Linked DNA regions of Homo sapiens. The protein of the gene in region 3 purifies or fractionates together with the protein of the main gene of each other region. This does not show direct contact. Each region holds a gene or a part of one and is shown on either strand. Other genes may lie near its edges.

What was found.
Region 1: the proteins of GALNT6 (region 3) and GDPD5 purify together in Homo sapiens (co-immunoprecipitation; one large-scale study listed by IntAct). This does not show direct contact.
Region 2: the proteins of GALNT6 (region 3) and FAM20B purify together in Homo sapiens (affinity purification with mass spectrometry; 2 studies listed by BioGRID and IntAct, with this or other methods). This does not show direct contact.

Annotation. Positions count from the first base shown.
Region 1 is NC_000011.10:75,515,809-75,519,460, forward strand, and holds part of GDPD5 (glycerophosphodiester phosphodiesterase domain-containing protein 5), read right to left. Parts: exon of another isoform or gene 3,207-3,652; intron 2,466-3,206; exon of another isoform or gene 2,408-2,465; intron 1,619-2,407; exon of another isoform or gene 1-1,618. UniProt on the Homo sapiens protein: Glycerophosphodiester phosphodiesterase that promotes neurite formation and drives spinal motor neuron differentiation.
Region 2 is NC_000001.11:179,073,851-179,077,089, forward strand, and holds the end of FAM20B (glycosaminoglycan xylosylkinase), read left to right. Parts: 3' UTR 1-2,717; downstream 2,718-3,239. UniProt on the Homo sapiens protein: Responsible for the 2-O-phosphorylation of xylose in the glycosaminoglycan-protein linkage region of proteoglycans thereby regulating the amount of mature GAG chains.
Region 3 is NC_000012.12:51,381,271-51,384,922, reverse strand, and holds part of GALNT6 (polypeptide N-acetylgalactosaminyltransferase 6), read left to right. Parts: intron 1-1,340; exon of another isoform or gene 1,341-1,462; intron 1,463-2,413; exon of another isoform or gene 2,414-2,610; intron 2,611-3,652. UniProt on the Homo sapiens protein: Catalyzes the initial reaction in O-linked oligosaccharide biosynthesis, the transfer of an N-acetyl-D-galactosamine residue to a serine or threonine residue on the protein receptor. May participate in synthesis of oncofetal fibronectin.

The DNA.
Region 1 (3,652 bases), on a different chromosome or scaffold from region 3:
TCTATAGCTTACTTTGGTGGAGGAGGCAGAGAGGGAGAGATGGGTACCTCCAAAACTCCTCTCGCCGAGGTGTCTGTGGCAGCTCGGCTGCTGATTCATCTTTGGGGTAAGGGCTGAGAGCCCCTTCATTAAGGGGTATGGTAAAAACAGATGATCTTTAAACTGTGTCCTAAGGACAGTGTATTCAGTGGACTCCCGGGCTTTTGATGGACAGAGTGAGGAAGTGTCTTTGGTTTGCTTCTCCAGAGCCACTCTCTACCTTGTTTGGGGCCCTGGGAACTGACCTCTGTGGAATGTAATGGGCTCCATGCTGCTGGCTTTCAGAGAGGTACACCCAACAGGAAGCATAAATGGGGGACTGAAGGAAAGAGGAAAGATAGTTGAAGTTTATCCCCTGTGAGGTCTCCTGGGTTGACTGGGTCCCTGTACTGATGGCCCACAGCCCCTATCCCTATAGCTGCCCACTTCCCTTGCTCCTTCAGCCCTGAGTGGTAACTGCTCCCAGCCACTGCTAGTCCCTCGGTGCTGCACTATCCCGTGTTGATTTGTCACACGCCTAATGCCTGAGCCAGTCACTCTGGGTTGATGTACCCTCTCTGGCTGTGCCCAGGCAAGGAGACCAAGCACTGCCACTGATGGCCCCTTTTGTAGTCTTCCTCTGTCCAGTCCTCAGAGCCTCCTCTGGTCTTAAAGAAGAGCAGTTTGAAGGGATGCCCATGATTACATGTGCAGGCCTCCTCTGTCCTCTGTCTCAGCCTGGGCCTGGTGGGGCAAGGGGAGCAGACTGGGAGACAGGGAGCGTGGACCAGCCAGTGAAGGAAGGGGCAGGAGGCAGGGGTCAGCTCCCCAGCAAGTGCATGCACCAACAGCTCTTGAGTGCTTAGTTTACGGTAGGCACTGTGCTCCACATACCAGTAATTTTATTTGCTTCTCAGGTAATCCCAGGAAGTCCTTCCTACAAATGCATTTTATAGGAGAAACAACTCGTGCTCAAAGAGATAAAATGATTCTTCCAGGGTCATCCTGCCAGTAAGTGACAAAGCCAGGATCAACATAAGTTTTCTGTCTTCTGTATGGTAGACACGTTGGACAGTGATACCTGGACTTGAGCAAGCCCTGAGAATGACCTTGTATGGCAGGCGCACCTCAATGCAGTTTGGTTCTAAGCTAAGGAATCTGGGAGTAGCCAACCCGGAGATCCACTCCTTATCTATGAGGAACATCTGAGCTCTTGGCCCATCCTATGGAACTTGCGGGCCAAACAGAGGATTGAGGTCTGTGGTTTGGGGTAAATGGAGGTTGCTAGGTGGAAGTTGTTGGGGGAGGTGCTAAGTGAAAATGCTATAGAAATTGCAAGCTTTTAGGCTGGGGGGCGGTAGCTCACAGCTATAATCCCAGCACTTTGGGAGGCTGAGGCAGGCGGATCACCTGAAGTCAGGAGTTTGAGACCAGCCTAACCAACATAGCGAAACTCCATCTCTACTAAAAATACAAAATTAGCTGCGTGTGGTGGCACTTGCCTGTAATCCCAGCTACTTGGGAGGCTGAGGCAGGAGAATCGCTTGAACCTGGGAGGCGGAGGCTGCAGTGAGTGAAGATCGCGCCATTGCACTCCAGCCTGGGCAATAAGAACGAAACTCTGTCTCAAAAAAAAAAACCAAAACCAAAACCAAAAACAAAAAAACTGCACACTTCCTGCGAGTGGTTGTGGTTCTTCGGTCCAGCCAGCAGCCACTGGACTCTCTCCCCTGTGTGTGAGCCCGTAGTAAAACCCCATGGCTCATTCGCTGGCTCTGGGTCTCCTCTTTGGCCTCTTGAGCCTGGTGCCATCCTCACTGGCACTGATAGGGGTTTAGCTCAACACCTAGTAACTACCTTGAAATAATTTTAGTGAACTGGCTCACAATCACAGCAGAGTTGGATGACTTAAGTGGGGTCAATTATCGGTGAGGATTTGCACAGAGGCCTCCAATGTTCCCTGGACACCCTCCCCTAGATTAAAAAAAAAAATCCTCTGACATTCTTCAGTTCTCCCAGGTGGGACAGGGGCCCCAAGCAGGTGGTGCAGTTGGGTGTCCGGGTTGGAAAAACAAGCAGATTCAGACAAGGCTTCATTGTTAAGGAGAGTCTGACACTTTGACCATTAAAGCAAAACTGAGCAAAACAAAATGCTTACTGCCTTGTCTTATCTCTTAGAGAGAAAGGGGACAGTGGGAAGGGCCCCCGGGCTGGGTGTTGATCCCACCCTAACCAGCGCCAGTCTCAGAGACCTGGCCTCAGGTGGCTGGGGCAGGGAGTTCAGGGTCTCAGTCCAGCCCGGCGTCAGGTATGGGGTGGGTGCTTGCCATGTGTGGCCTCGTCTGGCCTCTGTGGCCCTTTCAGAGAGATCGTTATTGTCATTTTTCAGATGAGGAAACTGAGGCTCCGAGAAGACACGCAGGGAGCAGCTGCATGCTGGAACCCAGGTTAACTGGATTACCAAGTCTTCCCACTCCCCTCATCTCTCCAGGCAGGAAGGTCCTGGGGGGAGGAAGCAGCCTCGGAAGGAATGAGCTCCTTGTCCTGGGGATGTGCAAGTATTGTCTTGGGACACTGTGGGAGGTAGGCTGCAGAGGGCAGCCAGGTGGCTCTCAAACTGAAATCACCAGGGGAGCTTCATCAACTACTGATGCCTGGGTCATGCCCCAGAGATTGTGGGGCCTGCAGGACTTTTAAAAGTTTCCCAGATGATTCTAATGTGAAACAAAGTTTGAAAGCCATGGGCTTGGATGCCCACTGCTGCCCTTCCCACCTCTGAAACTCTCCTGCCACACGCCTTTCTAAGGAAAGAAGGGATTTATTACCCTGACCCCATTTTACAAAATGGGCAGAAGCCAAGCAAAATATAAGGGTGTCCTCAAGGCCCCACAGCCAGCAACAAATCGAGGCAGCATGAGGGGTCCCCTGATTTCAGACTGCCCCTGGGGTGAGCTTCTTTAAGACACTTGGGGGTTCCAGCTCCCTTGTCAGTGGGAGAGAAGTTTCTCTTTGAGCCTCCTGGGTGAGAGAGTGAGACATTCTTCGTGGCATTTTTTTTAAAGAGTCCACTCGTTCAAAAGCTAAACAGCTGCAGGATTAACGCTGGAAGACCCCCTCTGCTTGCTGGTGTGCCTTGGGAGCAAGAAGATAAAAGAACTCAAAGCAGGCCTGTTTATCCTTTTCTGCAGGAGATTTGGTCACAAGCCTGGGAAGAGCTGAGCCTGTCAGACCAGCAGCCCACACTTCCTCCCCACCTGCCTTTCCGCCTTCCTCATGCCCTGAAAGCAGAATGTCACAGATGGAGAGATGGTGTGGGTTGGTGGGAAGTGAGAGGCCTGTGGAGTCCACTGGTCCTGGGGTCTGCCCAAGCTCTCCTCCTTGCCAGCTACCTTTGGAGAGGAGCTACTCCTCTCTCAGCTCATTCAGTGCTGATCTCACAGAGGTCCAAAGTCAGCAACATGGGCACCACCTCCAGGAAGGCTTCCCTGACTCCCCTCCCCACCCAGCGCCGGGCAACCCCAGGCCCCTGGCCTTCCCTGTCACATTCTGTGTTGTCACTGCTTCTGTGTCCTCCCAACCCTACCAGGCTGTTCATTCATTCATTCCACGGAGCAGCTGCCCTTTGCCTGGGATT
Region 2 (3,239 bases), on a different chromosome or scaffold from region 3:
AGTAAAACACAGGGGCAAAGGAAGACAGGCCTGATGTGCCCACTCATCTATGGACTCAGAGCTGTGTGCTTTGCTCCTGCATCTTGTTGAGGTGCTGTTCCAGCTTTGCATTTCTGTCAAGTAGAGGCGAATATATAAACAGTGTGGTTGAATACATTTAATGCCAGCCATTGGAAACTAGTTTTAGGCAACCACTCTCAAAAACAGCTTTAGAATTTATGCCCAGTTTTCTTGCATTGAAAGATAACTGAGTAATAACCTGTAACTATTTTTAAATGGCATGAAATTAGGAAACTTTTGTACATTTTATATACATTTTGAGATGAACAGAACAATGGGCTGAGTTATAAAAAGCGTGTATTGAATTTAAGAAGACAGACTAGCACAAAACACAGAATTCGTGTTAACCAAAGGAGGCATTGATTTCAGTTTTAAGGCTACTCAGTGTTGTGTGTCCAGGGAAATTCACAGCTCAGTATGAGAATACCTTGGTTAGTGCTCACCCACAAGCTTCCAGGAGCCAGCTGGGAGGAGACAATAGGAAGAGATGTCATCTCTGCTCTCCCTGTAAATGTTAGTTGAACTAAGTTATGGATTTGTGGTCTTTCAAATACATGACGCCTTTAGTATGCCACACTGAAATGAATAAGAAGTCTTCTGAAACTGGGAACTTCATAACATTGAAGGCAGAAGATTCTGCTAAGGAAAAAAGCAGGCAGGAAAGAAAATGTCTCATCCTTTCTTGAAAGCATTTGCAGAAAATATATCATTTCATTTTATTCCCATCTGTTTTCAAACTCGTGATCTTAAAAGGCATTCTGATGATAAATTTAGAATTTTCATCTATAAAATTTAGAACTCTAATCCATAAAGTTAGAATTGAGCTAATAGAGTGGTATGACATGGCACTAAAAATATAAATTTTTGTTGTAAGTCAGGATTGGAGTAAGCTGGAAAAGTATGTTTAGGCAAATCTTGGAGAAAACCAACCATAAACTTACAGCTCTAAAATTCAGAAAGCCCTAAAATTTCAAACACTGTTTGAAAGAAGAGGTGGGGGCCGGGTGCCGTGGCTCATGCCTGTCATCCCAGCATTTGGGAGGCTGAGGCAGGCAGATCACCTGAGGCCAGGAGTTCGAGACCAGCCTGGCTGGCTAGCATGGTGAGACCGTCTCTACTAAAAATGCAAAAATTAACAGGGCACGGTGGCATGCGCCTGTAGTCCCAGCTACTCGGGAGGCTGAGGCAGGAGAATCACTTGAATCCAGGAGGCGAAGGTTGCAGTGAGCTGAGATTGTGCTGCTGCACTCCAGCCTGGGAGACAGAGCGAGACTCTGTCTTAAAAAAAAAAAAAGGAGGTGAATTTTTTTTTAAGTTTTGTAACACTGTCCTACTTTATTTATTAGAATCTAAGGCTGTTACAATCAAGTCGTTGCAGGGTTTGGATCAGCTGTAAGTTAGGTATGCCTACCAAACATCCAAAGGTAGACGTGGAGACATTTTAATACTACAAAACTAGGAAAATCAGAACTCATGGCCATTTCCTGCCCTCCTCCAACTTGTTAAAACATGTTTATTCTAAAGTTCGAATGGATAAATTTGAGTATAAAGGTTTTGTTATAAAACTGTTCTTTAGTGTAAGGCTGCATTGTGGGTTTGGGGGAAATGTAAATAATTTTCTGTGTAAAACAAATTCATAGGATCTGATTTGCTCAGAGTATTATTCAAGAATGTATTAATAAGGCATTGCCCCCTGTTTGCACTCAGGGTTAATATGTCAAATGAAATTTAAGAAGGAAATGGAAGAATTCAGGTACATTAATTGCATATTATTTTGGGAAAGATGAGTCCTATACGTGGCAATTTTTCAATGTCATCTGAAGCCAGCATTATCTTCCAAAGAAATCGATCTTTTTTTTCTAAAAAAAAAAAATGCTTTTGCCTTCCCTTCCCTTCCCATCCGCCATATTTCTTCAGCCTTTCTTCTCGATCACCCGTGTATTCTTTGACCAGTAAATGACCACACCTCAATGATGGTAAAACAGCATCATCAGTAAGCTATCTTATATGCCTCATCCTGTGAGTTTGAGCTTCAGGAAACATGAGTAAAAGTATATGTAATGTATATAGTCGTATATGTATTCTAGCAAGAAAAACATATTTATTTTGACAAAGGGGAACACTGACTTTCTGAAGGATTCAGAAAGAACCTTAGTGAAAGGTTCTCAGTCTCTGAGAGTGGACCCTAATTAACATAAAGACCATTCATCAGCGAATAACTACTGAGCAACTCTAGTGTGCCAGCACAGGCCAGACATACTAGTGAGCCAGGCACATCTGGCCTTGGGAAACTCATCCTACAGGGGAAGGCCAGTTTTTTTCCCTTCAATTCCTCAAGTCTGGGTGGTGACAAGGTAGGGGCTAGGTACTGGACTACCACAGGTTTTTAGGAACTAAGGTGTTTCTCATAAACACAAAATGTTGGGTGAAACTGGGAACAACTACTCAGAAGCTCATTTATTTGCTTAAATGGAAAGTGTGGGAGCCACTACCCTCTCTTTTGATCTGCCAAGGATTTCCTCTCAGAGCTGTTGCACAGACAGAGATTGTACTTGGTAAGATACCAAACAAGACAGATATGGATCTAAATTTCTAATGTGTTCTATGGGTTTCAATTCTGAAAAAAGAAAATGAATAAAGATTTTAATAAATATTGATATCTGATCTTTTCCTCTTCTTTCCCCCTTCAGGATATTTCCAGTGGTTCCTATTTCAGTTCCCTTCCTGTTAGGGGACAGAAGAAGATTACATCTTTTGTGACCACTTAAACTTCCACAGGGATAGTTTCACAGTACCTGGTGGATTAGACCTTTAAATTTCCTCACCAGTCTTCAAACGGTTCATACTAGATTGTAACTATACCAAAATTTTCTATGGGATCATTGTTAGGTGCTTTTTGTATATTTAATAGTTAACTCCATTTTTGCAGCTTCCTTAGAGGTAAAGAATTATGAATCCTGAAGAACTTGTCAGCACACTACAAAAAAGGCAGGAAGAGAAGGCCAGTTGCCCTAGTAGTACTTCTTAGGACACCTAGATTTTTAACTTTTGAAATAGAATCCAGCATCATAAACCTCAACCAGGTAACTGAGCAAAGCTCTTAAGATTTTTATTGGGCCAGGCACCATGGCTCATGTCTGTAATCCCGGCACTTTGGGAGGCCAAGGCCCGTGGGTCAC
Region 3 (3,652 bases):
TATTCTGGGTTTTTAAAATTTATTTATTTTTATTTTTTGAGACAGGGTCTCGCTCTATTGCCTAGGTTGTAGTGCAGTGGCATGATCATAACTAACTACAGCCTCAACCTCCTGGGCTCAAGCAATCCTCCAGCATCAGCCTCTCAAGTAGCTGAGATTACAGGCCTATGCCACCACACCCAGCTAACTGGTCTCTTTTTGCTAATTGGTCTTTTTTTTTTTTTTTTTTTTGAGACAGAGTCTTGCTCTGTCACCCAGGCTGGAGTACGGTGGTGCTATTTCTGCTTACTGCAACCTCCAGCTCCTAGGTTCAATCAACTCTCCTGCCTCTGTCTCCTGAGTAGTTGGGATTACAGGCACATGCCACCATGCCTGGCTAATTTTTGTATTTTTAGTAGAGAAGGGGTTTCACCATGTTGGCCAGGTTGGTCTTGAACTCCTGGCCTAAAGTGATCTGCCCACCATGGCCTCCCAAAGTGCTGGGATTTCAGGTGTGAGCCACTGTGCCTGGTCCTAACTGGTCTTTTAAAGAAATTTTTGAATGCTAATTTGCAACACTCTGAATTTATTTTATAATATCACAGTGGATTGTAATCAGCAGTTTGATACAAGCTGGGCTGGGTAAAGCCTCAGTTCCTTACACCAGTGAGAGAAGGTAAGTTTGTGTTCTGGCCGGTGGGGCCAGGGAAGCAAATCCCATTTGTTCAATCTAGGCAGGCTTTTCAGAGAGGATTTCTGGCATCATCTCGGGATCAAAGCCAAGGATGGTCCAAAGAGTTGCAGGCCCAAGGGTAGCTGGAGGAAAAAGACTTGGGAAGAAGTGCTGAGCCACAGCGAGAGGGAAATGAGTGGATGGGGGCTGCGGGCACACTTGCCAGGAAAGCAGGAGGCCAGGTGTGGGAGCCCAAAGGTGAGGGAGATATACAAGACACCAGGGGCGGATCTCGTGAAGCTTTGTACTTGAAACAATAGCAAAGAATAGCAGCTATTCTTTCTCCAAGGCTGGTGGAGGGGCGACCTCCACGACCTTGCTAACCATACTTCTGGGAATCATCTCCTACACAGGGAGCAGAAATCCTTAACCCCAAAGTCCTGTGGCTTGCACTAGATTCTGTGTCTCTTCTAAGGGACTCTTCCTGTTGCCCTCATGCTAAGCAAACAAACTAGAGAATGAGTGCCTCACCACCAAGGCTAATCCCAGGTGTCTCATTTCGGTTCAGGATGTGGTTAGTACCTTGAGGAACTGTAGGTTTGAGAGAGAAAGCTTCAGGCAGCCAGATGGGATTGAGAGATTAGATGCCTAGGAAGAGCTCAATTTAACCCTATATTTCTTTCTCCAGGGAAAATAAAAGAAGCAAAAACAGGCCCTGCTGTGAGGGACCACGAGGCAGTGCCAGGATGAAAGAGTTGGAGTAACCTAGGTGATTCTGAGTGAATCAGTCAGGAGGCCTTCCTGGAGGGGGTGAGTCTTGAGCACTGGCAACAGTTAGTAACTACAATCTTACCATGCCTTTGTTTCTAACTGTGCTCCCTCTTTCTTGCTGGAGTGGGAAGGTAGATGGAAAGTAGCAGGGAAGACGAAGCCTGCAGGACGGTTCAAAGCTGTCATGGCAAACACTCCCCCATTCTGCAGGCCTCTGTGTGGGCTTAGCCGGGACAGTTCCAGAACTGATGAGGTGTCTAGCTCAAGCAAATCCCCCTGTGCTAGCCCCAGCATAGCTCAACCTCTGTGACAAGAAACTCCTGCTACACTGAATCCCCATTTCCTCCCCGAAGCCTTCCTCAAACCCACAGGGAACTCTACCTCTCTCAGCTTAGCTCTTACTGTCTGTGCTATTCTGCTTTAATTTTATTCATTTTTGAATAAGTAATATAGTCAGGGTTCAAAGTACAAAAGAGTATTCAGTGAAAGGTCCTTTTCCTGCTCCTGAATCTCCCCTGGTCAGGTGCTTCCTTCACCTGGTCAGTGCTATCAGTTCTCGTTCTCCAATAAGATTTTCAAATCCCTTGGGGAAAGGAATTGAGCCTTTGTGTCCCTCTGTGTACCAGACGGGGTAAACTGTCCCACCCCATCACCCAAGGGGGTCTTCCTAGGCACCATACCCTCCCTCTTCCATCCACACTGCTACTAACTCTCCTGGGTCAGACTCCGAATGGGTCATCCAGCTGCCAAGCAGGTCCCTTTCCAAGATACCCTCCACCGCTGTCATATTGCTCTTCCTGTAATGCTGGGCTCCCAGCTTAACGCTTTATTACTCCCCATGCCTTGGGTCAAGGGCAAATGCTCCTCAGCATGATGAACAAGGCCCTTAGGACTTGGTTTCAGCCACCTCTGTAGGCCCAATTTCTGCTACTCCTGCCATACCAGACTGCTTACAGTTCTGTGACTGGCTCTTCTGTCTCCCACCTCTAGACCATTGCAGGTACTGTGCCTTCTGCCTGAAATGTGCTCACCTCGCCTCGCTGACTCCTACTCGCCAGTTAGTGTTCGGCCCATTTCTGCCCCCGTGAGATTTCTTCACAGATGTTGCCCTCCCCCATTTGCTGAGTTTCCTGCATGCCGGCTCCTTCAGCACTCAAGGGTACCTCTTTGATTCTGCTTCTCACAGGGTAATCTCTGTTTAAAATCTGATGCCCCCAATTGACTGTAGGATCCTTGAGGGCTGGCCTTGCACTTCTCTGTGTCCCCCGCCTCTTGCAGAGTACCTGGTAGAGGCAGTTATTCAGTAAATACTGGTGGAATAAACAAATCTCTCCTATCTCCTAGACAATAGTTAATACAAAATAGATGCTCAAAGAGATTTCTTTTGTTTGATTTTTGACGGTGCTGCTGAATCTGATGTTATAAAAGAAGCCACATTTGTACCCCAGTCCAGAATGAATCCACCTCCCCACTTGAGATCACGATGGCCACATACTCCCAAGGTCTCAGACACCAGGCCTCTCCACAGGCAGGAGCTTGTGCGTTTAAACAATAGCATTAAATAGTACAACCAGAGTTATTTTTAAGCAAAACATGCAGGGAGTAATGAACGTGGCTTTGGCCAAGGGCCAGGTGCTTGAGGATAACTGCTGGGAAGTGAAGCAGGGATTTATCATAATAATAGAAATAGTTGATACCATTTATTGAGGGCTTAGTGTGACAGGTGCTCTGCCAAACATTTTACCTACATTATCTGATTTAATCCTCCCCACAACCCTGTGAGTTAGGTATTAGTTGCCCCCACTTTATAGATGAGGAAATTGAGGCTTAGAGGGATTAAGTAAATTACCCAAGGGTCACACAGCTGCTAATGATCAAAACTAACACTTTGTGGGAACTTACCATGTGCAGAGACTGCTAAGCTTTGTCCATGAATTTTGTGGGGAAGGAGCATAATCCTTGTAACAACCCTAGGAGGTAGGTGCTACTACTAGAAGAGGAAGAACTGGAATTTGTGCCCAGGTCCCTTGCCATTGATGTCTAGTGCTTAACCAGTGAGCTTATGTGTCCAGAACTCTGCACAGAAAGTTCTGCAAGCATTCATCCTCTAGGGCATGGATCCACATGCCTGGGGGTGGAGCCTGGTGAACGCCCATGCCCAGCCCTGCCGGGAATGTCTTGTCATGAAATCTTAGGTTTCTGTTAAATTCTTTTTTATTAAATAGGAGT